5 separate regions of the Homo sapiens genome follow, and regions 2, 3, 4 and 5 are each linked to region 1. Evidence: fine-mapped expression QTL. A gene starts in region 1. Each other region holds a variant in brackets. All regions are shown on one strand. Distances are between the middles of the regions. Region 1 holds the start of NIBAN1 (niban apoptosis regulator 1). Region 2 overlaps NIBAN1 (niban apoptosis regulator 1). Region 3 has its middle 19 kb from the start of LINC01633. Region 4 overlaps NIBAN1 (niban apoptosis regulator 1). Region 5 overlaps NIBAN1 (niban apoptosis regulator 1).

Evidence for each region. PIP is the estimated chance that this variant, and not a neighbour inherited with it, causes the effect. A credible set is the group of variants that fine-mapping cannot tell apart.
Region 2: its variant is the best candidate, but not a certain one, in a credible set for the expression of NIBAN1 in whole blood (TOPMed, PIP 0.83).
Region 3: its variant is the best candidate, but not a certain one, in a credible set for the expression of NIBAN1 in monocytes after R848 (Quach 2016, PIP 0.80).
Region 4: its variant is the best candidate, but not a certain one, in a credible set for the expression of NIBAN1 in whole blood (INTERVAL, PIP 0.54).
Region 5: its variant is the best candidate, but not a certain one, in a credible set for the expression of NIBAN1 in whole blood (TOPMed, PIP 0.51).

What each region holds. Positions count from the first base shown.
Region 1 is chr1:184,971,825-184,976,928 of GRCh38, reverse strand. It overlaps NIBAN1 (niban apoptosis regulator 1), which reads left to right and starts at 2,421. Exons shown (of 14, transcript NM_052966.4): 1 at 2,421-2,627. The coding sequence starts at 2,573. RefSeq lists a silencer at 2,637-2,956 and an enhancer at 3,067-3,236.
Region 2 is chr1:184,791,791-184,796,894 of GRCh38, reverse strand. It overlaps NIBAN1 (niban apoptosis regulator 1), which reads left to right. Exons shown (of 14, transcript NM_052966.4): 14 at 798-5,104. The coding sequence ends at 1,918. Among named protein-coding and RNA genes, the nearest start is that of EDEM3, 39 kb to the right of the region's middle. The variant G/A (reference allele first, on the strand shown) is at 2,433.
Region 3 is chr1:185,018,075-185,023,178 of GRCh38, reverse strand. No RefSeq gene overlaps it. Among named protein-coding and RNA genes, the nearest start is that of LINC01633, 19 kb to the right of the region's middle. The variant G/A (reference allele first, on the strand shown) is at 2,981.
Region 4 is chr1:184,932,214-184,937,317 of GRCh38, reverse strand. The region is part of intron 1 of NIBAN1 (niban apoptosis regulator 1); the gene reads left to right. LOC124904469 (a long non-coding RNA gene) reads left to right here. Exons shown (of 2, transcript XR_007066770.1): 2 at 1-5,104. Among named protein-coding and RNA genes, the nearest start is that of NIBAN1, 40 kb to the left of the region's middle. The variant G/A (reference allele first, on the strand shown) is at 2,947.
Region 5 is chr1:184,865,049-184,870,152 of GRCh38, reverse strand. The region is part of intron 5 of NIBAN1 (niban apoptosis regulator 1); the gene reads left to right. Among named protein-coding and RNA genes, the nearest start is that of NIBAN1, 110 kb to the left of the region's middle. The variant A/G (reference allele first, on the strand shown) is at 2,841.

The sequences.
Region 1 (5,104 bases):
TGGTCTATGTATCTGTTTTTGTCCAATATTTTTGGTATACTGTTTTTGTACCAGCATTATGCTGTTTTGGTGACTGTACCCTTCTAGTATAGTTTGAAGTCAGATCATGCCATGCCAACAGCTTTGTTCTTTTTGCTTAGGATTGCACTAGCTATTCAGGCTCTTTTTTAGTTTCATCTGAATTTTAGAATAGTTTTTTTCTAATTCTGTGAGGCATGTCTTTGGTAGTTTGATAGGAAGAGCTTTGAATCTGTACATTGCTCTGGGCAGTATGACCATTTTAACAATATTGATTCTTCTTATCTATGAGCATTGAATGTTTTTCCATTTGTTTGTGTGAATCCATCTTTGTACTCTGTTTCATCCGTGAATATTTACAAATGAGTGGATAAGGGTAGATGAGGATAATCAGTCCTTTCTCAGAGTATTCCTGAAGTAGAGGTGACAAGCTAAAACTACACTTCTGGCAGGAGATCCAAGCTAGTTTTCTTCAATAACAATAACAGTATTCTGAGGCACAGTTATAGCAATTTATATAGTCAAAGAAATTACTTCTCCAAGAAGATACACTTAATTCTAGGAGCCAACTAGAGTATTGAGAGAAGAGTTCAACACTAAATATTTTAAATCATTGAGTTGTTATCTGGAAATGCTTGAGATCACAGTTTTTGTTGAGTACAGATTTTTACATTTTATTTTTCATTCATTCACTTATTCAGTGGTTATCTACTGGACACCTACTACATGCTAGGTGCTCTTCTAGGCATTTGAAATACAGCAGAGGACAGAATAGACAAAAAAATCCCTGCCATAAGAGGAAAAATAATAATAAAAAAGGAAACAGAAATTTTGAGGGAAAAAGCCCCAAGAAACAACAATAACAACAAAGAAAATCCCTGATCTTATAGAGTTTACATCGCAGTGGGGGAAGATAGACAAAGAAATATGTGTTAGATGATACTAAGTGATATGAAACAGAAATAATGAAGAGCAAGTGGCAGAGAGAGGTGATGGCTGGTGTTCCTGGGTCAAGGAGAACCTCTCTGAATTACTAGCATTAAAGTGGAGGCTTGAATGAAATGACTGAGAGAGTAACCTATGTGAATATCTGAAGGAAGAGCATCCTACAGAAATGAAAAACAAGTGCAAAGGCCCTGAGCTTGATGTGTCTCAGAAAGAGTAAAAAAAAAGGCTAGTAGGGCTGGAACAGAGAGAACAAGGAGTGGTGGTAGAGAAGATCACAGAGGAAACTCCACCTAGGCCCTGATAGACGTCGTGGCTTTTCTCTGAAGAAGGTAGATCAGTTAGGCAGCTAGTGTAATGAATAAGGTGAGGAATGATATGGGATGTCAGTAGAGGGGATGAGAATTGGTTGGCTATTGGACATATTTAAAAGCTGAATTGACAGGATTTACTGACAGATTGGAATGTAGAGTGTGAGAGATTGGGTGTGAGTGTGATGAAATAATTGTGTTAAAGTGCAAGTTAGCTAATAGGGAAGGCGGGGGTGTGTGGGAAAGCCTTCAAAGTCCTCCTCAGGCCTGGTTCTAGTGTATACAGACCATTTGACCTTGAGGTTAAGTCAATAGGAGTCGCAAAATAACTGACTACTAAGAATAGGATGAAATCAGCGGTGACCCCTCTGCCCAAGTGGGTCTTGTTCCGAGAGGCTGCCAAGCTAAATAGTGGTTGTGGGAAAAGAACAAATATCTTTTCTAATGATTGATTTCCAGTTAAGGAGAGGAATGGAAAGTAAAGGGGTAAGGACAGACGTTCATCAAGTCTTAGGAAGTTTCAGGGCTGGGAGTATATTGCAGGACCAAGCCTTAGTTTTTCCCTGTCTTTCCATTTTTTTTTCTCTTTCCTTTTTTCCTCATTTCCCCACTCCCTCCTTGGTCCAGGTTCTCGCCTGCAGAAAGGTATAGTTTACCTCTAGTTCTCAAACTTCAGCGGGCATCAGAATTCCCTGGAGGGTTTGTGCAAACACAGATTGCTGGGCTCCACTCCCACAGATTCTAAGTGTGTGTGTGTCTGTGTGTGTGTAGAGGGGTGGTGGACGAAAGCGCTGAGATTTTGTATTTCTAACAGGCTCCCAGGTAATGCTTGGGAAGAACTGTTGCTTCTTGGACAGCAACACTTACAAGGCAACGTGATCTTGAGCTCCACCTCGAAGGATGTGAGCTGGGAAAGTTCCAGCTCACAGAGATTTAGTCACTTGAGAAATGGTCCACTTCCTCCAAGGTGTTTCTTGGATGCCCCAAAGGGATGAAAACAAGAAGTGACCGTGGGCGAGGAGGAGGAGCTGGCCGACCTCCTCGGTTGCCAGCCCGTCGGAGCTCACCAGCTAGGCGAGGGCGGGAAGACAGCCCCCGGGCCGGCCCACGGATCATCAGAAGGCGCGGACCTGGAGGAGGCGCCCCAGAAGGCGACGCCTCTTGCCTCCTGTCTCTCGCCTCTCGAAGGAAGTTTGCTCTTAATTTCAGAGCCGGGTTCGCCGTCGGATCAACCTCCAGGAGCTAGCAGCGGGCGCGGACCGGGCAGTTTCCGCGCTCAGCACAGGCAGCTCGCGGTCATGGGCGGCTCAGCCTCCAGCCAGCTGGACGAGGGCAAGTGCGCTTACATCCGAGGTACGCCCGCCCGCCCGGGGGCCTGGGGAGCACCCTGACCCGTGCACCAGGCTGGCTGCCGCGGTCGGGGCCCCAAGGGGCGCGCCCCGGGCCCTCTCCCTGTAGCGCGCGGGGATCCCCGACCGCAGCCCGCCCGCGCGAGTCGGGTTTCCTGCCCCAGCCGGCGCGCTCCGGCGCGGGTGTGGACCGGGGACCGGGAGGGCTTGGGAGCGAGGCAGGTGCAGGATGCGGGTGGGGACGCCGGCGCCTTCGCCGCTCCCGCCGCCTCGGGGTCAGTGCCGCCCCCGCCCGGCGCACTTCGCCCTCCAGTACCTGCCCTGGACTGAGTTCTGAGCGGTTTCTGAACTGGCCGCCAAGAGAGCAGCGGGGATATCCCGCGTTTCTAGAGATACCCCTGGGGATTCCCGGCAGCTAAAGCAGAATTTCCCTCTTAGTAATGTTGGCCTGGCTTTGGAAAGCGCGGCGTTGGCCGCAGCTTCGCTCGCACTTCATCCTAGCACTTGCAGGATGATTTCATCAGCGGCAAAAAGGACAATGTCATGCCGTTCCCTTCCCGCCCCGGAGAGGGGCGAAGCAAAAGAGGAACACTGGCGTGCTTTGTAACTGCCCGAAAGTTACAGATGGGGAGAAACTCATTTAGGGAGACCCTCAGAGATGTGGGGACTCAGTAGAGAGCGTGAGGCTGCAAAACAAACAAAACAAAACCCAAACCGAACTGAAACTGCAGGAAGTCCTGACTCGTTATCTCCTTTATTTCCTGGGCGTATTTGGCCTCCCCTCTTCTCACCCCCCACCCCAAACTTGCCTTCAACCGCTACCTAACATTTGGTTATCTTACCAATTTACTGTCTTTCCCCCGCCCCGCCGCCAGATCCCCCACCCTCGGCTTCAGAAATATCTTCCAGACTATGTATTAAACTCTAGGTTTATTTGGCCCTTGAATCCTTTCCTAAGAGGAAATCATTTATTTGGTGTTCTTATTCCACATTTGTTTTCAGTCACCACAACATTTAAGACCGTTTTAAAAAGATATCAAATCAGGGTACGTGAAGAGCAACGGAGCTGATTTTACAGATTCCTGCTCTGGTGCTTTTGGAGGTAAAAGATCCTCAACAACCTGTACTGTCAGGGGATAACACTTGGTCAAGTATCTCTTTGCTTTTGTTTGTTAAAGGGGAAAAGACGGATGATTTATTTATATTAGTAAAAGAGCTGAACTAAGCTTAAAAGAAATAAATGAAGCCTGCCTTAGTCTTAAAAATGTGGCTACATGCTTGTGTTACCAGTGTATAGGGACTGAAAGGGCAATCAACAGAACGTAGTGAGAAAGGGCTTGCATTTGAATGTTAGCAAAGTTGTGTTTAAGGCATTTATATAAGACTTTATTTCACTGGAAAGCTTAGGAGCACCTAATGTGGACGCATGGCCAAGTACACTAATCATTTGAAGTTAAGCAATGTGAAGGATTAACATGCTTAAAGAAGACTTCCTGGCCGTGCCATTTGTTGCTATTGATGCAAACATTGTACTCAGATAATAAGAAAATGCTATTAATTTCTTTATTCTGAAAGCTATTAAATTATTACATATACAAAAGTACGAGGGAGTTAGGGCAGATGAAGAACTTGTAATGCAAGTGTTTGAATGAGTAAACCTATAGCATATGGTGTGACAGTCATTACATTTCCCAGTCTTGTTCAGCTTTCTCTCTTCATTCTATATTCAGGAGGGCACTTGCAAGGTATGTGTAGTGGGAGAGGGAAGAGAAGAGTTAAAGTTAGAATACCTCCAGGGAAAAAGACTCATCACTTCATGTGAGAATGCTAGTCTTGCCAAAAGAGAAAAGAACCTTGGAAAAATGCATGGTGTTGTACATTGTTAGTGCATGAGCAAATGAGGGTCACAGGGCTGTGATTTCCTGATGGTTTTGAAGCCCAGGTTCCTGAGTAAAATCATAGCCCTATCTTTACCTCTTTGCCCATTTTTTAGCCTATAAATATTCTCAAGCTTTGATTCAATTGTAAGCAAAACGATTGGAAGTATGACAGTAAAGTTTAAATATACTTTTATGACCTGTTTCTCATAAAGTAGCCATCAGTGAAATATAGATTTGAAAGCTCCTGAAGCTGAGACAATAACTTTCTTTTAAGCTTGATAAACTTTGCTAACAAGGAGAGTAGCTAGTCAATATATTTTGAGTGACTTTTGTTAACTTTATTTTGTATGCATCATAAACCGCTGTATGCTACTGACGCTGAATCAGCCTTTACTTTAAGACAAATCATTTAACAGCTGCCATTCCTTGTGTGCCTCAAAACATCTGTGTCATATGGATGTTTTGAAAATACATTGTTTCTTAGGATTTAGTTAATCTTCAGGTAAAGATATATCATCTACGTTAAGGAGTTACTTCATTTCTAAAGATGTTAGTTTGGGAAATTACGGCAATGCTCATGTTTCTTACAACAGAATAAATT
Region 2 (5,104 bases), 180 kb after region 1:
AGAAAAAGACTCCTTTCCTCCAGACACTTTATTGCTGTCTGTTAGAAAATTGTCACAATATATTGATTTTGTTAGAGAAGGAAACTCTGCAGCTAGATGCTGAAAAGTTATGCCGAATACACAAATCTGTTCTGTCTTTGATATGAATGGCACCCCTGAGATGTGATATTTTTGGGCACTACAGCCCCTGCACAGCCATAAGTAGGAGGCCTGTGGTCAAAAATGTCACCTGCTGTTGTTGTTGTTGTTATTGGATTTGCCCCTCTGGAGGCCTTTGAAACTGAGCTAGATGCACATGGATCTTCATTTTGGCCCTCTCCTCTGCATGTGCAGTACCGAGTACCTATTACACATTCAGGACTGTACTGCAAGGTAAAGCAGATAAGTGTAAGGCCTGGCCCTGCCCTAGAGGATTTCAGTCCAGGTGGACAAACTGGAGCCACCCATCTTAGCAGCTAATAAAATGTGCTGGGGCCTCCCTGAGGGATACAGGTGACACTACTGCAGACCCTGAGTGTCTTGAAAACAAAGGCTATAGTTTATTCATCTCTGGATTCCCAGGGCCTGTCCCATGTTAAATGTCCTGCAAATGTTTGCTGTTTGAATAAATGAATGAATGAATGCTACAGAGGCTCAGAGTTTGGAAAGAGTTTATAGACTTTGGTCATCAGGGAAGGCTCCCTGGATGTAAGCTGGGTCTTGAAATGGAGAAATTTGGATAGCCAGAGAGGCTGAAAGGGGACTTTGGCTTCTCAATAAAATCAGAAAATCATGTTTTGTTTTCTGATATCTCTCAGTGATAAAGGAAGCTGCTATCTTGAAGAAACACAACTTATTTGAAGATAACATGGCCTTGCCCAGTGAAAGTGTGTCCAGCTTAACAGATCTAAAGCCCCCCACAGGGTCAAACCAGGCCAGCCCTGCCAGGAGAGCTTCTGCCATTCTGCCAGGAGTTCTGGGTAGTGAGACCCTCAGTAACGAAGTATTCCAGGAGTCAGAGGAAGAGAAGCAGCCTGAGGTCCCTAGCTCGTTGGCCAAAGGAGAAAGCCTTTCTCTCCCTGGGCCAAGCCCACCCCCAGATGGGACTGAGCAGGTGATTATTTCAAGAGTGGATGACCCCGTGGTGAATCCTGTGGCAACAGAGGACACAGCAGGACTCCCGGGCACATGCTCATCAGAGCTGGAGTTTGGAGGGACCCTTGAGGATGAAGAACCCGCCCAGGAAGAGCCAGAACCCATCACTGCCTCGGGTTCTTTGAAGGCGCTCAGAAAGTTGCTGACAGCGTCCGTGGAAGTACCAGTGGACTCTGCTCCAGTGATGGAAGAAGATACGAATGGGGAGAGCCACGTTCCCCAAGAAAATGAAGAAGAAGAGGAAAAAGAGCCCAGTCAGGCAGCTGCCATCCACCCCGACAACTGTGAAGAAAGTGAAGTCAGCGAGAGGGAGGCCCAACCTCCCTGTCCCGAGGCCCATGGGGAGGAGTTGGGGGGATTTCCAGAGGTAGGCAGCCCAGCCTCTCCGCCAGCCAGTGGAGGGCTCACCGAGGAGCCCCTGGGGCCCATGGAGGGGGAGCTCCCAGGAGAGGCCTGCACACTCACTGCCCATGAAGGAAGAGGGGGCAAGTGTACCGAGGAAGGGGATGCCTCACAGCAAGAGGGCTGCACCTTAGGTTCTGACCCCATCTGCCTCAGTGAGAGCCAGGTTTCTGAGGAACAAGAAGAGATGGGAGGGCAAAGCAGCGCGGCCCAGGCCACGGCCAGTGTGAATGCAGAGGAGATCAAGGTAGCCCGTATTCATGAGTGTCAGTGGGTGGTGGAGGATGCTCCAAACCCGGATGTCCTGCTGTCACACAAAGATGACGTGAAGGAGGGAGAAGGTGGTCAGGAGAGTTTCCCAGAGCTGCCCTCAGAGGAGTGAAAGGGACAATTTGGCTGAAGTCTTTCTCTGAAAAAAGCCAAAGGGTTATAGGGGTACACTTAGGGGTTGCATGCAAGCTGTTACCAAAAAATTTTTAAGTATTTTCTTAATTTGAATAATAAAACCAGAGGAAATGCATACAGGGCATGAGCAACTGAGGCAAACCTTTGTGGACATGAATTGTTCTACGATGAATTTTTGCTTTAGTATTTTAATAAGAATTACAAAGACAATGGCATACTTGGGGTGAGAGGGAGCTGAGGATGTCTGAGGAGGGAATAGTATTGCAGGGAAGACTGAGAAAACAGTAGGATGACAGTTTTGAGTATACTCTGCACTTTTCAATTGTGCAATCTTCTTGTGCACTTTAAGGCTTTTTAATTTTGTTTGAGAATGCAAATGTATACTGTAAGTCTACCTTTACTATCTACTATGCCTACTTCACCATCTCTTAAGGACTCGGCATTTGTCCACAGTCAGACTGCAAGAGAGGGTAGGTCATGAACAGTCACCC[G/A]TGCTGGCTGTAGCCCCCACAGAGGCAATCATGCCCAATAGATTCAAGAGAAGCTAAGCGGAAATGGAGGGTGGAAGGTGTGATCTGTGGGACTGTCTGGGCCTGTTACTCATCCTGCTATCAATTTCTTATTAATTAATCTTGATGATTCTTATTAATTAATCACATTTGCAGGAAATTCAGATGAGGCAAGAAAATTTTATTGGCCTGGGTAAGACTGAAAGCATTCCAAATTAGGCTTAGACTGTGCAAAGGGCTTAGCTAAGTTATCGAGCTTAAAACCCGTCAATTAAACAAACATTATTTGAACAGTTACTGCATGCCACGCACTGTGTTGGGCTTAGTAATAAAAAAAAGAAAAGATAAGTGCTTGTTCTAGCATAAATTAAAAGGTCCAAGGGAATTTAATCTGGAAGAGAACATATGCCAATTTTTAAACTATGACAGCTTTTTTTTTTCTCTTTCCATTCAAATAGTCCTGGTTCATTCCCAGAAGGGCACAAAATGAATGAATAAATAAATAAATGAATAAAGACAAAAGCCAAGGTGTATGCTCTCAAGTTCCAAAGATGTTATCAAAAGCTGAAATCATTTGTTTGGTCATTCAGCAAGCTAATTGAGTCTCTGTTATATACCAAGCACTGGGGATACCATGGCGAAAAACAACTTTGTTCCTTCCTCCTAGAACTTACATTTTAATGGAAATAGACAAAACACATCTTCTTAACGGATGGTGACCTATAACCATTAATGTTGAAAATGGAAGAGACTTGCTTCCAAAAGATTAAAAGGAGTTGTTCTTTTCTCCTTCAGAAAAATACCAGATCATTTCCTAAAATCTCCAGTCCCAAGTATTACATCGTGGTTTCCCTCCCCGACTTTTTATTTTATTTTATTCTATTTTTTTGAGATGGAGTCTCACTCTGTCGCCAAGGCTGGAGTGCAGTGGTGTGATCTCGGCTCACTGCAACCTCCGCCTCCTGGGTTCAGGAGATTCTCCTCTGTCAGCGTCCCAAGTAGCTGGAATTACAGCCATGCGGCACCATTCCCGGCTAATTTTTGTATTTTTGGTAGAGATGGGTTTTCACCATGTTGGCCAGGCTGGTCTCAAACTCCTGATTTCAAGCGATCCACCCACCTCGACTTCCCAAAGTGCTGGGATTACAGCGTGAGCTACCTGGCCCCTCCCCAAATTTTAACATCAGATCTCAACATATTTGTTGAGAACTTGTTTAGATCATCACTATCGAGTAAATTTATGTCAGTTCTTTAGAGCATTTGCTTCACACACAGTTCAACCATTTAACCAGAAATTAAAATATCACCCTTTTCAGCCCTCCCATGAAGAATTTCTAGGTCATAAACATGAATAATACTCAGTATATGTATAATATCATATTTAATTGTTGCAACTTTTCTTGGCGTGTTTAAATCCTCATGTCTTTGAGGGATCCCACCACAGGTGAAGGAAGTAAAGACCACTTCTCCCCCAGTCTCTGCTTTCTGCAGTGCTCACTCATATCCTGGCATTTAGCATGGTGTGTTGAAATTAGGTTTACTTCTTGTCTCTCCAAGTGGCTCCTCTCTTAAAAGACAGAAACTAGGGTTTAGTCATCATTTGTGCTTCCTGCTAGAAACCCACAGCCTTGAATAATGGCTTCCTGCCTCCTTGAGTCACTTTAATATCCCTGGTGCATAGGACCTGGCATGCGTCAGGCTGCTCGGGAAATGTGGGAACTGGACACCCAGAACACTGCTGTGCTGGGGCTATTTGGGGCCTGCTGTCAGGCAGAAAGACGTTTTGAATTGGGCTTTCTGCCCTTGTTGAGTTTTCTCTTAAGTAAAGTCCAAAGTCCAAGGGGCAGATGGCCAGATGCACTGCCCAGTAAGGCAGGAAGCCAAAGAGGCAGTGCCCAGCCCCACAAAGGCTGCCCGACTCCCTGGGACAGTAGTGTGGAGTCCCAGCCCAGGCTGACCTCACACCGGAGCTTCCTAGCTTCCTTTCTTTGCTCAATGCAGGGCTTCTTGCACCCCCTGGAAAGCTAAGAGATTTTTTTCAACCCTAAAAGAGAGTACCTTTCACTGCATTGGATGGATGAACATCAGTGCCCTAACTTTATCCATCATGTAGGTCAGGGAGGACTGGGCACTATTTGGCAGGATGTACTCCAGAATATAATCAAAGAATTTTCTGTACATATTTCACTAAAGACAAGTTTTTGGGCTGGATGTGGTAGCTTACACCTATAATCCCAGCACTTTGGGAGGCTGAGGTGAGAGGGTCACTTGAGCCCAGGAGTTCTAGACAAGCCTGGGAAACATAGCAAGATCTCATCCTTACAAAAAATAATAATGGTGTGTGCCTGCAGTCCTAGCTACTTGGGTGGTTGAGGCAGGAGGATTGTTTGAGCGAGGGAAGTTGAGGCTGCAGTGAACTATGATTTTACCACTGCACTCCAGCTTGGGCAACAAAATGAGACCCTGTCTCAAAAAAAAAAAAAAAGTTTTCTAGAATAAGCAGGATGATTGTTTAATTTGAAGATGGAACAGGAAACTAGAGTGCATTTAAAATACTCTGTCTTCATTTTAACATGTTGAATGGAATAACTGCATATCACCATGAGTTTGTTTTGCTTTTCATACAGACTTGTATGTGTCATTTGAGTGGTTTC
Region 3 (5,104 bases), 46 kb before region 1:
CTGTGGTTTGGTGCCTGACATTAATTTTGAAAAGCTGTCAGTCATTCGTTCAAATATTGCTTCTGTTCCTTTCTCTCTTTCTTTTCTTCTGGTATTCCCATTACACATATGTTATACCTTTTACAGTTGTCCCACAGTTCTTGGATATTCTGGAGTTTTTTCAGACTTTTTCTCGTTTTCAGTTTTGGAAGTTTCTATTGCGATATCCCAAAGCTCAAAGATTCTTTCCTTAGTCATGTCCAGTGTGCTAATGAGCCCATCAAAGGCATTCTTCATCTCTGGTAGTGTTTTTGATCTCTAACATTTCTTTTTGATTCTCTCTGAGAATTTCCATCTCTCTGCTCACATTACCTACCTGTTCTTGCATGCTATCAACTTTATTCATTAGAGCCCTGAGCACATTAATCATAGTTGTTTTAAATTCCTGGTCTGATAATTCCAACATCCTTCCATATATGAGTTCTGTTCTGATGCTTGTTCTGTTTCTTCAAACTGTGTTTCTTGACTTTTAGAATGTGCTATGGTTTGAATATGTTCCTGAAAAAGCATGTGTTGGAAACTTGATCCCTGATGCAACAGTATTGGGAAGTGGGGCCTAATGAGATGTGATTATGCCATGAGTCTCTGCCATCATGAATCGATTAACGCTGTTATCACAGGAGTGGGTTCCTTATAAAGGGAGTTCAGTCCCCCTTTTCATTCTGTCTCTCTTGCCCTCTTGCCTTCTGCCAGGGAGTGATGCAGCAAGTAGGCCCTAACTAGATGCTAGCCCCTCAATTTTGGACCTCCTAGCCTCCAGAACCATAAACCAGTACATTTTTGTATACTATAAATTATCACTTTCAGGTATTCTATTGTAGCAGCACAAAACAGACCAAGATGGTGTGTCTTGTAATTTTTTACTTTCTTTGTTTCTTTTTAGAGATGGGGTGTTGTTATGTTGCCTAGGCTGGACTCAAACTCCTGGGCTCAAATGATTCTCCCACCTCAGCCTCCCAAGTAGCTGGGACTGTAGGCATGCACCACTGGGCCCAGCTATTACCTTTTTCTTGGCAGATGGACTGGATGTATTGGGTAAAAGGAACTGAGGTAAATAGGCCTTTAGGAATGTAGTGGTAAGTTGTGGGGGAAGGGGAAGCATCCAATAGTCCTGTGATTAGGTCTCTCAATCTTTTAATGAGTCTGTGCTTTGGACTGTGAATTCCACAATAATAATTTTTTCTCTCCCTTTAGTGGGACAGAATTGTTAGAGTGGCTGGAGTTGAGTATTTTCCTTTCCCAGGTTGGCTAGCCTCTGAAAAAAGCCCTAATTGTTTAGGCTCTTTAAAATAGTTTCTCTTGAGGTCAGGACTTGTTAAAACAGAATGCTCTGGTATATTTCAAATTATACTTTCCTCATTCCCCTTCTAGAAGCAGGTGGGGATTTTTCTCCAATATGCATTGTGAAGATCTGGTCGAGCTCTTGGAGGTAAAACTCACAAAAGTGTGGGGATTCCTCCATGACTGGGTCCTCCTTGAATTTTTAACTCTCAGGATTGTCTACACTGGGCCTCCATTGATTTGTCAATTACAGTTCAGGTCTTCCTATCTCAGACTGGTTTCTGTGGCAATTTCTGCTTCTAGGTTTCTGTCCCAGGAACTTGTAATTCCCTGTATTCATCTGTCCGTTTCTCCAAGCTTGGGCGAGCAGTTTGCCATGTGACCTCACTTCTCTGATGGGTTTAAGAAGAGTTATTAATTTTTCAATTTGTTCATCTTTTTACTTTTTGGAATGGAGCAATGACTTCAAAGGTGCTTATCTACAGGACTGAAAACCCAATTTGCCTTTTTAATTATCTTAATGGTGTCTTTTGATGATCAGAAGTTTTAAATTTTGATAAAGCCCAATTTATCCTTTTTTTTCTTTTATGGTTAGTTCTTTTGGTGTTCTGAGAAGTCTTTGCCTATCGCAAGGTTGCAGAGATATTCTCCTATGTTTTCTTCTAGGATCTTTGTAGTTTTATGTTTTATATTTCATCTGTGATTCATGTCAAACCAATGTTTGTCTATGCTGTGAGGTAGGGTCAAGCTTTATTTTTTTCCATACATTTTTATAGCTGTTTCAACCTCAACTGTTTAGAAGAGTTCCCTTTCCCATTGAATTGACTTGGTGCCTTTGTAAATATTCAATTGACTGTATATTTTTGGGTCTATTTTTGGACTTACTATTCTGTTCCATTAATCTATTTGCCTATTCTTATGCCATAATCATGTTTCTCTTTAATATACAAATTAAATCATTATGATTTCAGTTTCACCTTTTTAAAGATTACCCTTTGGAGTTTACCCTACCCTACCCTCTGCCTTAAAACTCAGGATACACACTCATTATTGAGGTCAGTCTTGTTTTCATGTAACTAGTTCAGAGAGAAGCAGAGACTGTAATCAGCCCACCAACTAGTGTCTTTTGTTGCTGCCCTGGCTGTAGTCTGTTGTTCCTGGAAACACAGAGTCTCACACCGCCAGAGATCATCACTGTCCACTGCTGGAATGACCACGGTCCTTAACCACTGCTTGTTGGAGCTGCAGTTTTTTAGAGCATAAGGAGGAAAAAGGAGATATCGCCTTTACTATTATGATCATCATGCCACTGATGAGTCCTCTTCTTTAATATACACTCTTCTCCACAGCTATTTTGACCAAGCATGCCCCCAGTGCTATGGTGATTGAATCAAGAGAGTCTCTGGCCTCATGTTACTCCTCTGGAGCCTTATAATATGCCCAGGTGCTCCAGCTTCTTGGGGTGCTGGGTCTCCTTTCCTTCCAGGTGAATTCAAGTGAGACTATATATCTATATCTCTCTAAGATGTTGTAATAACCTGGAGTCTCAAAAGAGAAGAGGTTGATATCTGTATCCATTTTTCTCCCAGGAGATTTCTTCTAAGGTCTATATTGGAAAAAATTTCCTCTCCTTCCCAGAACACAAAATAAGCTCCCCAAA[G/A]TATCATTATACTACAGGTAGTGAACTGATGGTCACAGGCCACATCTAGCCTGCAGCTGTGATTTGTTTTCCTGTCAGTGTTTTCTGGATTCGAGCCAATATTCTAAAATGGAGAGATTTTTAGTTAACAATATAGATAACCTAGCTTCCACACGACCCGGGAAAACTGGATCTGCATGCTGCATGGCCTCTGTTAATTGGAACTGAGTTGGGTTTACTCACTTTAGATCTCGCTTAGAGCCCTAGTCACTTATATCTAGCTTTCTTCAGTATCAGCCTGGCTCCTAAAGCATTGCATTTGTGAATTCTCTATCGAACCTGAGAATAAGTGTTCACTCCTTGTCACACATCCACATAACTAAAAGGAACAGGTCACATCATTGATCTCTGAACAAAGCTCACCACCACAGTAGCTTCTAAATAGCTACCACTAGACTTAGAAGTAGCTGACAGCTTTAATAATATCTGTTTTTGTTAACAACAAAAAGTTTAGATTTCCACTTCACCCTGCTACATTTATTCATCCAACAAATACTTATTTAGCACCTACTTTGTGACAGGCACTTTTTTCTAGGCGCTTGACATACGTCAGAGCACAAAGTAACAAAAGTGCCTGCCTTTGTGACACTTGTAGTGCTTTTGGAAAGATAAACAATAAACAACTGTCATAGTAAATGTATTAGCTATATAAAATATTACAAAGTGTGGCAGAGTATACAGTGAATGCTTGCCAAATGACCCATGTACTTTCTTATATTTCTTAGCCAGAAAAAACTGAGCCCTGGAGTATTCCAACATTAGGAGGCTGGGAAAGAGATCAGCAAGGGAGCCTGTGAAGGCACAGGGAGTAAGGAAAGTGAAAAAGAGGAGAGTGGGGCATCCTGGAAATCAAGTGAAGAAAGGCTGTTAGAAAGACAGAATGATCTATTGTCAGATGTTGCTGACAGGCCAGGTAGAAGATGATTAGACCATGAGATTTAACCACGTGGAGGTCATTGGTGACCTTGACAAAAGCAGTTTTGATTGGGACAAAAGCCTGATTAGAATGGGTTTAAGAGAGAATGGGTGAACAGAAATAGGAGCGAACCACAATCTAGACTAGCAAAAGGAAGCAGGTAAATCCTACCAGGGAAGGAGTCGTGAGATGGAAACATTGTTTTTTCATTTCATTGGTGTTGGTGGGTGTTTAGGTTTTTTTTCTTTTTTTTCTTCTTTTAAGATGGAGTCTCGCTCAGTCACACAGGCTGGAGTGCAATGGCACAATCTCGGCTCACTGCAACCTCTGCCTCCTAGGTTCAAGCAATTCTCCTGCCTCAGCCTCCCGAGTAGCTGGGATTAAAGGTGGGTGCCACCATGCCTAGCTAATTTTTGTATTTTTAGTGGAGATGGGGTTTCACCATGTTGGCCAGGCTGGTCTCGAACTCCTGACCTCAAGTGATCTGCCCATCTTGGCCTCCCAAAGTGCTGGGATTATAGGCATGAGCCACTGCACCTGGCCTGTTTTTTTTTTTTTTTTTTTCCTTGACATGGTGCCTTGCTCTGTTGCCCAGGCGTGGTGATCATAATAGCAAAGGTGATACATCCTTTTTCCTTCCTTTTTTTTTTTTTTTTTTTTTTTGAGACAGAGCCTTGCTCTGTCACGCAGGCTGGAGTGCAGTGGCGCGATCTTGGCTCACTGCAACGTCCACCTCCTGGTTTCAAGCAATTCTTGTGCCTCAGCCTCCTGAATAGCTGGGATTACAGGCATGCACCACCACGCCTGGCTAATTTTTGTATTTGAAGTAGAGATGGGGATTTACCATGTTGGCCAGGCTGGTCTTGAACTCCTGACCTCAAGTGATCTACCTGCCTTGGCCTCTCAAAGTGTTGGGGTTACAGGCGTGAGCCACCATGCCTGGCCGGTGTTGGTGTTTTTTAAGAAGGCAGACCCATGAGCAAATTTGTATGCTGCTGGGAACAAGTCTAATAGAGGAAAAACCTGAGAGTGTTGAAAGAGAGAAGAGAGAATTACTGGAATGATACCCTTGAGTAGGTGACAAGGGTTGAGCTCCAGTGTACAGATGAAAGAACAGCTTTAGATAAGGGTATGGGTAATTCTGCTACAGAAACAGGAAGGCAGAGTGT
Region 4 (5,104 bases), 40 kb after region 1:
CAATGGCACACACCTATAGTCCCAGCTAGTTAGAGGCTGAGGCAGGAGCATTGCTTGAACCCAGAAGTTAAAGGTTGTAGTACACTGTGATTGCATCTATGAATAGCCACTGCACTCCACCTGGGCAACATAGCAAGAACCTGTCTCTCAAAAAAAAAAAAAAAAAAAAAAAGAATCCAGCTATTAACAGAAGTCAGCAATGAATACCAAGGTCCTCAGTATTACATAATATTTATTGCTTCCTTGGATGAACTTATTAATTTCTTATAAAGAAATGCGCCCGTATAAGGAAGAAAGGAGCATAGGAGGAAAGGGATAGGATGGAGAAGAGTCTTGTAGTGTGACTTCATATAAGTCCCTCAGTTTCTTTACTTGAAAACATCTTTATATTAATCATGGGGATGAGTTTTATTAATGTGGGGTAGTGGGCTGAAGAATGCTCCCCAAAGATGTCAGGTCCTAATCCCTGGAACTTGTAAATGTTACCTTATTTGGAAAAAAGTGTCTTTGAGGATGTGATTAAGTTAAAGAACTTGAGATTAGGGGATTAAATGCAATCACATATATCTTTATAAGAGAAAAGCAGAGGGAGGTTACACACACACACGCACACACACACGCACGCACGCAGTGTGAAGACTGAAGCAATATGGAGTGATGCAGCCACAAGCCCAGGAGTCCCAGTAGCTACCAAAGCTGGAATAGGCAAGGAGTGGAGCCTCTGAAGGGAATGGCCCTGCCAGAGGGCAGGTGGGCCTGCTAACTCCTTGATTTCATCCCAGTGATACTGACTTAGACTTCTAGCCTCCAGGACTGCAGAGGAAGTTTCTGTTCTTTTTAAGCAATGAAGTTTATGGTAATTTCGTATAGCAGTGGCAGAAAACTCACCAGGAGGCAACAATACAGGAACATGAGAAATATGAGGCCTGACAGAGAGCTCCTTTGGATGGCTGTTCCTCCCCACTTCCCTTGGAAAGCTTGCTCCTTCACTCTCCAGGGGATCAAAACCTGGGAGACTGTCTGCTGCTGAAACTACACTCCCGGAATCTGTGAGTTCTCCTGTTGTTCTTTTTCCCTCAGGATCCTCCATTTCCAGCATCTATCATAGTCCAAGCAGAGCACATAAGCACTCTTTTGGAGTACATATGGCTTTCATGGTCTGGTGATGGAATCTGGGAACACAGTTATGTTTGGATGAGGTCAGTTCTGAGTGGCAAGCTCATGTTACTTAATTAGTTTAGCATAAGTGTAAACCTTTCAATAGACGCTTAGTTTCCCCTGTTTTTTTTTTTTTTTCATCTATCACAAAAATAGGTTGGGTTAGATATAGCTGTGGTTCGTCAGCTCTGAAATCCTGCAACTCTCTCACTAGTCTGCATTTGCCTTCACCTGTGAGCCTGTCTCCCGTTTGTCCCAGGGAAACTCTTCTAACATGAAATCCAAGTTGAGCTCTCTCAGCTATGTAGGTTCCTGGAAAAGGATTGGTTTTCATTCTGGATTTTAAGTCAAAACTTAAAAAAAAAAAAACCCTAACTCTTGACTTAGTTGGTGTCCCTAGATTCAGACCTTGAAATTTACCCAACTAGGCTTTCTTTTTCCCAGGTACCTATGTTGTACTCAGAACTGTGAACAAAGCTTGATCAAGCCAGTCTGAATTTTTGCAAATTTTCATCCCCCTTTTATTTTCACATTTAAAAAAATATATATATTTCTATGTATTAAATGTTGCTTGCTTTAGACCTTCCAAGCTCAATCAGATCAACGTTAGATTATTGCCCCTTTCTTTTATTTGCTGGATCTTATTATTTTTAAGACAGGGTCTCACTCTATCACCCTGGCTGGAGGGCAGTGGCACAATCATGGCCCACTGCAGCCTCAACCTCCTGGGCTCAAGTGATCTTCGCACCTTGGCCTTCTGAGTAGCTGGGACTACAGGTGCTTGCCACTGTGCCCAGCTTTTTTATTTTTATTTTTTGTATAGACAGGGTCTCACTGCATTGCCCAGGCTGGTCTCGAACTGCTGGGACTCAAGTGATTCTCCCACCTCAGCCTCCCAAAGTGCTGGGTGAACCACGATTCCCAGCCTCGGATCTTATTTTTTATTTCCCTCTGAAAATCTCTACCTCACAGACAGAAGCTTTGATTGTATGACAGCTGTAGTATGTGACATTTGCTAAAACTTAAAAAAAAAATGTCTGCTATTAAATGATGGTCTAAAAATAAATTTCAAATTGATTTTCCTTTTTTTGAGACAGATTCTTGCTCTGTTACCCAAGCCGGAGTGCAGTGGTGTGACCACGGCTCATTGCAGCCTTGAGCTCCCCGGCTTAAGTGATCCTCCTGTCTCAGCCTCCTGGGTAGCTGGCACTGCAGGTGCATGCCACCATGCCCGGCTAATTTTTATTTATTTATTTATTTATTTTTTGAGATGGAGTCTCTCTGTCTCCCATGCTGGAGTGCAGTGGCATGATCTTGGCTCACTGCAACCGCTGCCTCCCAGATTCAAGCGATTCTCCTGCCTCAGCCTCCTAAGTATCTGGGACTACAGTCATGCGCCACCATGCCCGGCTAACTTGTGTATTTTTAGTAGAGACAGGGTTTTACCATATTGGCCAGGCTGGTCTCAAACTCCTGACCTCGTGATCCACCCGCCTCAGCCTCCCAAAGTGCTGGGATTACAGGCGTGAGCCACTGCTAGTGGCCATTTATTTATTTTTGTAGAGATGGAGTCTTACTGTGTTGTCCAGGCTGGTCTTGAACTCCTGGCCTCAAGTGATCCTCCTACCTTGGCCTCCCAAAGTGCTGCGATTACAGGTGTGAGCCCCTGAGCCAGGTCAATTTCAACTCTTATTTTGGATTCAAGGGGTAGATGTGCAGGTTTGTTACATGGTATATTGCATAATACTGAGATTTGGGGTACAATTGATCCCATCACCCAGAGAGTAA[G/A]CATAGTATCCAATAGTTTTTTTAACACTTGCCCTCCTCCCTTCCTTCTCCCTCTAGTAGTTTCCAATGTCTATTGTTGCCATCTTTATGTCCATGAGTACTCAATGTTTACTTCCCACTTATAAGTAAGAATATGTGGTATTTGGTTTTCTGTTCCTGCATTAATTCGCTTAGGATAATGGCTTCTAGCTGCAATTATGTTGCTGCAAAGGACATAATTTTGTTACTTTTTATGGCTGCATAGTATTCCATAGTGTATATGTACCACATTTTATCCAATCCACTGTTGATGGGCACCTAGGTTGATTCCATTCTTTTATTGCCTCTTTCTTGAACCCATGATTTCCCATATGCATTCTGAGATCCCTCACAGCTCTCATCTTCCTCTTCCAACTTCCAGTAAAGGTTCGGTATGTTCCTGCTTCACACAATGTCAGGGAGGTCAGTTGGTTCTCAGACCCCCATCATTGTGAACCAGCATTGGCATTCACCAGAATACTTGGAACACAACTTTCTTATGAAACATTCTTTGAGTAGCTGCTATAAACCAGGCATTTCTATAGCGAGTGTTGAAACTTATGTTAGACTGTATAAGATTCAATTCTTGTTTTAAAATGTCATTGTAATAGAGAAAGTAAGATAACCACACAAATAATAATAAGATGAAGTGGGTGCTGCTGTAATATTGATGGAAATAGCCGCAGATACAAAAGTTGATAAAACTACATTTCATTTCCTAACAAGGCATTTGCCATGGATGTGAACTTATGAACATCAGTTTTCTTACATGCCCAGGGGTCTATGGAGGCCTTATTTGTGTATGAAGATGTGGTGTGGAGTAAATGATATAAATGCATGTGAAAGTGCCCAGCACTATCCCTGATTCATAGTAGGGGATTGGTCAGAGATTCTTAAATACCAGAGAAGGGGTTTAAAAGGAAGAAGAGATCACAGGTGGTTTGGCAGATCCAAAAGGGCTTTGCGGAAAATGTAGCAATTAAGATAGGTCAGACTGGTGGCTCCTCAGGGCAGGGACCTTCTGAATTACTTTTCCTGTCCTTAGTATTTTATAAATAGACTGTAGTGGATATATGTTGAGTGAATGGACCTTAAAGGATGGACAGGATTCTGAAAGGTTGAACTGGACTTTGAGAAAGGGCACTGCAGCAGGGGCATAGCAGGGATGGTAAGGTGTAGGTCATGCTGTCAGAATGGCAGTCTACTTTGGTGGGAGTGTAGGGAAGTAGTAGAAGTAAGAGTGAAATGTAAGTTGGGAATATTCTGTGAGTATTGAAAGTGCTTTCATTGTTAGACTGAGAGCTTGCACTTTATCTAATTACTCTTTAATTTTTGTGTCTCTAGTCAAATTTAGGAGGAGGAGATTTTTGTTATGCTTTCTGCATTATTGAGAGTTTACCATTATAATTGCCATCTGTCGTGTTTCTCTTTTTTGTCAGAAGGGTTGTAGGCAATCTTTGGCTGGGATAAACAGATAGTTTTTCTACTCACTAAAGAAAATAGATGCAGAGAGACTGGCACTAACAAGGAATAGAGAAGGAGATAGTTTTTTCTTTGCTTATGCCTAAATCTTGTCTTTGTTAAATATTATGTTATACATTATTCATAACTTTTAAGCTTTTAAAAAATCAAAATTTAAGTCAAATAAGTCAAATATACAAAAGAAAAGAATATGTGAGCCTATGACTTTCCATGTGTTCTAGACCAGGAGTTCCCAACCGCCAGGCCATGGACCAGTACCGTCTGTGGCCAGTTAGGAACCAGGCCTCATAGCAGGAGGTGAGCAGCAGATGAGCAAGCGAAGCTTCATCTGTATTTACAGCCGCTCCCCATTACTTGCATTACCACCTGAGCTCCACCTCCTGTCAGGTCAGCGGCAGCATTAGATTCTTATAGGAGCACGAACTCTACTGTGAACTGTGCATGCAGGGGATCTAAGTTCATGATCCTTATGAGAATCTAACTAATGTCTGACAATCTATCATTGTCTCCCATCACCCCCAGATGGGACCGTCTAGTTGCAGGAAAACAAGCTCAGGGCTTCCACTAATTGTACATTATGGTGAGTTGCAAAATTACTTCATTATATATTACAATGTAATAATAATAGAAATAAAGTACACAATAAGTGTAATACACT
Region 5 (5,104 bases), 110 kb after region 1:
GACTTGGTGTGGAATCAGAGTTGGGGGGAAGAGACTTTTAAAATTTCAGAGTCCCTGGCATTATTCCAGACCTACGAATTAGAATCTCTGAGGAAAGGAGCCCAGAAACGTACATTTTAAACAGCATCCCTTCAGAGTTAGAGAATCGTTGTTGCCTAGGGTCTTCCTTTTAAACATAAGGTATTTTGCTTCAGCAACTTAATTTTTATTTTTCTCAAATTGTATTACTGGTAAAGATTCATGATTTTTATAATATGAATTTAATGTTTGAAGTGATATTCAACAGCACAATAAAAAAGTGGTGAATGGTGGGCCGAGCGCAGTGGCTCACGCCCGTAATCCTAGCACGTTGGGAGGCCAAGGTGGGTGGGTCATTTGAGGTCAGGAGTTTGAGACTAGCCTGGCCAACATGGTGAAAACCCATCTCTACTAAAAATACAAAAATTAGCCGGGCATGGTGGCGCACAACTGTAATCCCAGCTACTCAGGAGGCTGAGGCAGGAGAATCGCTTGAACATGGGAGGTGGAGTTGCAGTGAGCCGAGATGGAGCCACTGCACTCCGGCTTGGGAAACAGAGTGAAACTCTGTCTCAAAAAAAAAAAAAGTAGTGAATGCAAATAAAAGTAGTGAATGGTCACAATGTGCTTAGCAATTGTAAGATAAAATTAAACTCTTTATAATATTTTAGTGAGAGGACCACAACTAGACTCTTCATGGGATTTCCTTTTTGAAAATAATCCTGAATCTAATAGCAAGCACAACTGAGATACATTTTCTTTACTGAGTTTTGCATTTCCAGTGTGACCCTTTCGCTTTTTATACTGGACGATCTAATTTTACGTAAGAGCTCACTCTGGTAAGCTGTACCGTGTGTAGGTGTACATGGATGATCTCCACTAGTAAGATAAAATACCTCTCTTCTCTTCTACTTTTATCCCCTTCTTCTGTCCGAGTGAGAGGCAATGTACCACCTTTCCCTTAGACATGACCATAAAATCCCAGAGGAAAGCAATATGCCTAAAATTATTTAGTCTGTTTCCCTTGCTTGAATATGCACTGGAATTCCCTGGCCTGGGGTGGGTCCTAAGAATTTGCATTTCTGACATGTTCTCAGGTAATGCTGATGCTGATACTACTGGCCTGGGGACCCTACTTGGAAAGCCACTGTATTAACTCATTTAATCCTCACAGCAGTCCTGTGAGGTAGGCACTATTATTGTCATCATGCCCATTTTATAGACGAGGGTTCTGGGGCAGCTGGTAAGACAGCTGGTGATCAGGACAAGATTTTAAAGCCAAGCAGGCCGACTTCAAGCCCGTGTTCTAAACTACTGTACCATGTGTCTTCTCAGTCAGCAGGTACTTATTAAACGCATACTGTGTGCCCTGTGTTTGACTAGCTGATATTTTTAAAAAAAATCTAATCTCATTCCTTATTCAGGAACAGATGATTTGAGGATACTCACTTCCTACTGAACTTGACATGGATAATTTCTTGATATCTACTTGAGAGGGACATGAGCTGCTACATCAATTGAAACTCAGGTGACAATTGAGATGCAGAAGTTAAGTCTTTTCTCTGCTTTTAAACATGAAGTTGTGCCTTAACCCAAAAGGGTGTTCCTGTGGTAAACTGTGTACTCTATAAATGTTCTCCAAAGCTAGAATTTTCTTGGTTTATGCAAATGTACAGCTGAGAATAATTTTGTGGGATATGTTGCAGGGGTGGGGTTGAAAAATTCATGGTACTTATCTATTACCAGTTCTTTGTGTTTTAAGTACTTAGCCTTTATTTTTTTTTCCTTTCAGCATTTTCTTTTGTTAACTGGATTCCCATACTGGCTGTTGCTGAGGGGGTTGGGGAAGTCCTGATCTGACCTGAATTTTTTAAAACAATTTTTTAGCATTTTCTTTTGGAGACCACAAATCATATTGCAAGTCAACAACGTCTGGGTGTTAGTGGGACATTTCTATTTTAAGAGGCTTAGAAAAGGAGGTAAAAAAGAAGGAAGTTGGAAGTTAGGAAGGAGCAATGAAAGCAAAGCACCCATTTTCACATCTTACCAGACAAAGCCCCTCCCTGCCAAGTTCCTTTCTGGTGGGAGATCAGGGCATGGCTCATGCAATCACCAGCTAAGAAAGGAACTGAGACTTCTCTTCATTTGTTGTTTTTTCCTTCCCCACCTTTCCCTAGAAACTATTAGACTGCCACACTGTCCCGTTGTGTGACACGGGACACTTTAAGTGACGGGGTAGACAAAAGCTGGAACAAAAGAGCCTCTATTAAGGTAAGGGTCTACTGTGTCCAGAACATTGTCTTAGATGCTGGGGGCAAAACAAACCGAAAACACAGTCATTGCTTATAAACCAAACTCAATTTGTAAGGCTATCCCACTCAGTTAACAGAGGAGAGTTTGAGGATGATTTCCTCCTGACTTTCCAGGATAAGTGGAATAAAAGAAATAGAAAATAGATCAGGAACATCATTTTGCCTCATTCCATCTCACTTTAAGTGAACTCGGGCCCAAGCCCAAGTGGTTCTGTTCCAGGAAACACGGTGGGTCAAGCAGGATGTAACCTTATCACACACCTTAGCCATTGTCCTTTCCTTCTTAAATCCCTAGTGAGGAGGATAATAGTTGAAGATATCCTTCTTTTTTTCTTCTCCAGGCTTTAGGATATCAGATTAGGTATTTTCAAGTTGAGAACAAAAAGCCTTACCACAAAGTTGTATTCTCCTTGTGCCAATAATAATGAGTCATTCTTGCTAAGAACATAGGTGGTTTGTATCTTTCTAGTGCTTCTTGTCAGAAGAAGCTTAACATGCACAGAGGGAGAT[A/G]TTTTTCCTGGCACAATAGACCCTAGTCACAAACCACAAAGTTTTGCAATAAGGCTATTCGTTAAGTGAATGCAATATTATAGCTGAGACACTTTTGGGGTGTGTGTGTGTGTGTGTTTGTGTGTAGGGGTGTGTGTGTGTGAGAGAGAGAGAGAGAGAGACCGAGAGAGAGTGTCTGTGTGTGATGGGGGCTATACCTCAGCTTCCTGTTTGGCCTTGCTGATGTCACCGCATTAGTATCGGTACTGCACTTCAGATTTTTGTACAGATGTAAGTCATCATATTTAGTATTTGACTTTAAAATGAATTGGTTTTTGCACATCTGTGCTCATAAATGAATAACAATAGAAGGGGGAAGAAATTTTGAATTTTGATTAGATGAAAGGGGTGCAAAACTTCCACTCTTTCTTTCATAGATACCTTGCAAGCCAAAAGCTTTCTAGAATTGCTAGGTGAAGTTCTAAATATCACTAATTTTGAGATAGGCTGATTGACATTTATGATTGGGTTTGGTCAGGATGAAGGGTAGTGAAATTACCAGCATAGATGAGTGAGTTGCCATTGGTCTAAATTTTGCCATCTCTGGTTTTCTTCTGATTTCTAGTTCCATATTTGGTGGCTTTAAATGAACACAGTACTGTTCTCTTCATACCATGTATATTTTTTACCAGGTCAGGAATCTAAGAAACTTATGATCTAATTTAGATGTCTCTGGAAATGTGAATTTCATAACTTAAGAGAAGGGAACAGATTTGAAATTGAAATATTATTATAGGGAGCTGACAGTTGGGTTAAGTGGATTGTTACACATTATCATCTTAAAATTACATTTCGTGTCTTCTTAACTTTCCTCCAAAGAACACATCCTAGAATTATAACACTATTTTCAATTCCCTCTGCATCTTTCAGCCCTTAGAACTAAATCCTAAGCCAATAGCTCACTTTTGGACTCCTAAATTTGATTTTCTGAAGGCCTTAGGTTAAATGTCATTTCCACCAGAACACCTTTCTTAATCTTTCAGGTAGGTGAAAGCCCCACAATTTTCTTCTATCTGTCCATTCATCTGTCCTTCCTTCTCTCGTACCTGTCCTTACTTCCATCACAGTTCTAATCACATCATGTCATCATTGACTATTTATTTATCTGACTCCTAAAACTAGGAGTTCCTAGAAGCCAAGTCTATGCCCATCTACTATTACATCTCAGCCATTAGTACTGAGTGTAGGGGTGTAGTAAGCACATACTCATTTTTTTTTAACTGAATAAAGGAGCATGGGAAGTAGGTCATCATTTGAAAAAGCATCTGGAAATGATAAGAATAGTTAATAAAGCATTCCGGATTGTTTAGGAGAAAGGTCTATTTTACTTGTTAACAGCAAAGGCAATTTCTTTGGAAGATTTTGCTTTCTTTTTTGACTATCTGTGCAGTTACTTGTTTATTTTTCATTTTCCATCAGCTTTACAACTTTTTTTCTCATGCTCCTCATCGCCTACTATCATTTGTGTTTAAGCCTTCCTTTACATAAAACAGTATTTTTGGCTTATTATTTGGATGATTAATGAAAATCAATCTTAGCAGTTAGATTTCTGACTGAGACTGACCAGACAAAGTGAAATGTGTTGCATGATGCCATTATTTAAGTCACTGTTTTGTTGGCTGTGACCCATTAAGCATCCTTTCTTTTTGTTTAAAAATTATTTTTTTTCAGCTTGTTTTAGATTTGGGGGTACGTGTGCAGATTTGTTACATTGGTATACTGTGTGATGCTGAGGTTTGGGGTATGAATGGTCTCGTTACCCAAGTACTGAGCATAGTATACAATAGTTAGGTTTTTCAACTCTGTACCCTTCCCCCACCTCTATAGTCCCGTGTATTGTTGCCATCTATATGTCCATTGGTACTCAATGTGTGGCTCCCACTTATAAGTGAGAACATGAGGTATTTGGTTTTCTGCTCCTGTGTTAATTTGCTTATAATGGCCTTCAGCTTCCTCCATGTTGCTACAAAGGACATGATTTTGTTCTTTTTTTAATAGCTGTGTAGTATCCCATTGTGTATATATACCACATTTTCTTTGCCCAGCCCACTGTTGATGGGCACCAAGGCTGATTCCAGACTGCTTTCCACAGTGGCTGAACTAACTTACATTCCTATCTACCATGTATAAGCATTCCCTTTTCTCTGCACCTCACCAGCATCTGTTATTTTTTGACTTTTTAGTAATAGCCATTCTGACTGGTGTGAGATGGTATCACATTGTGA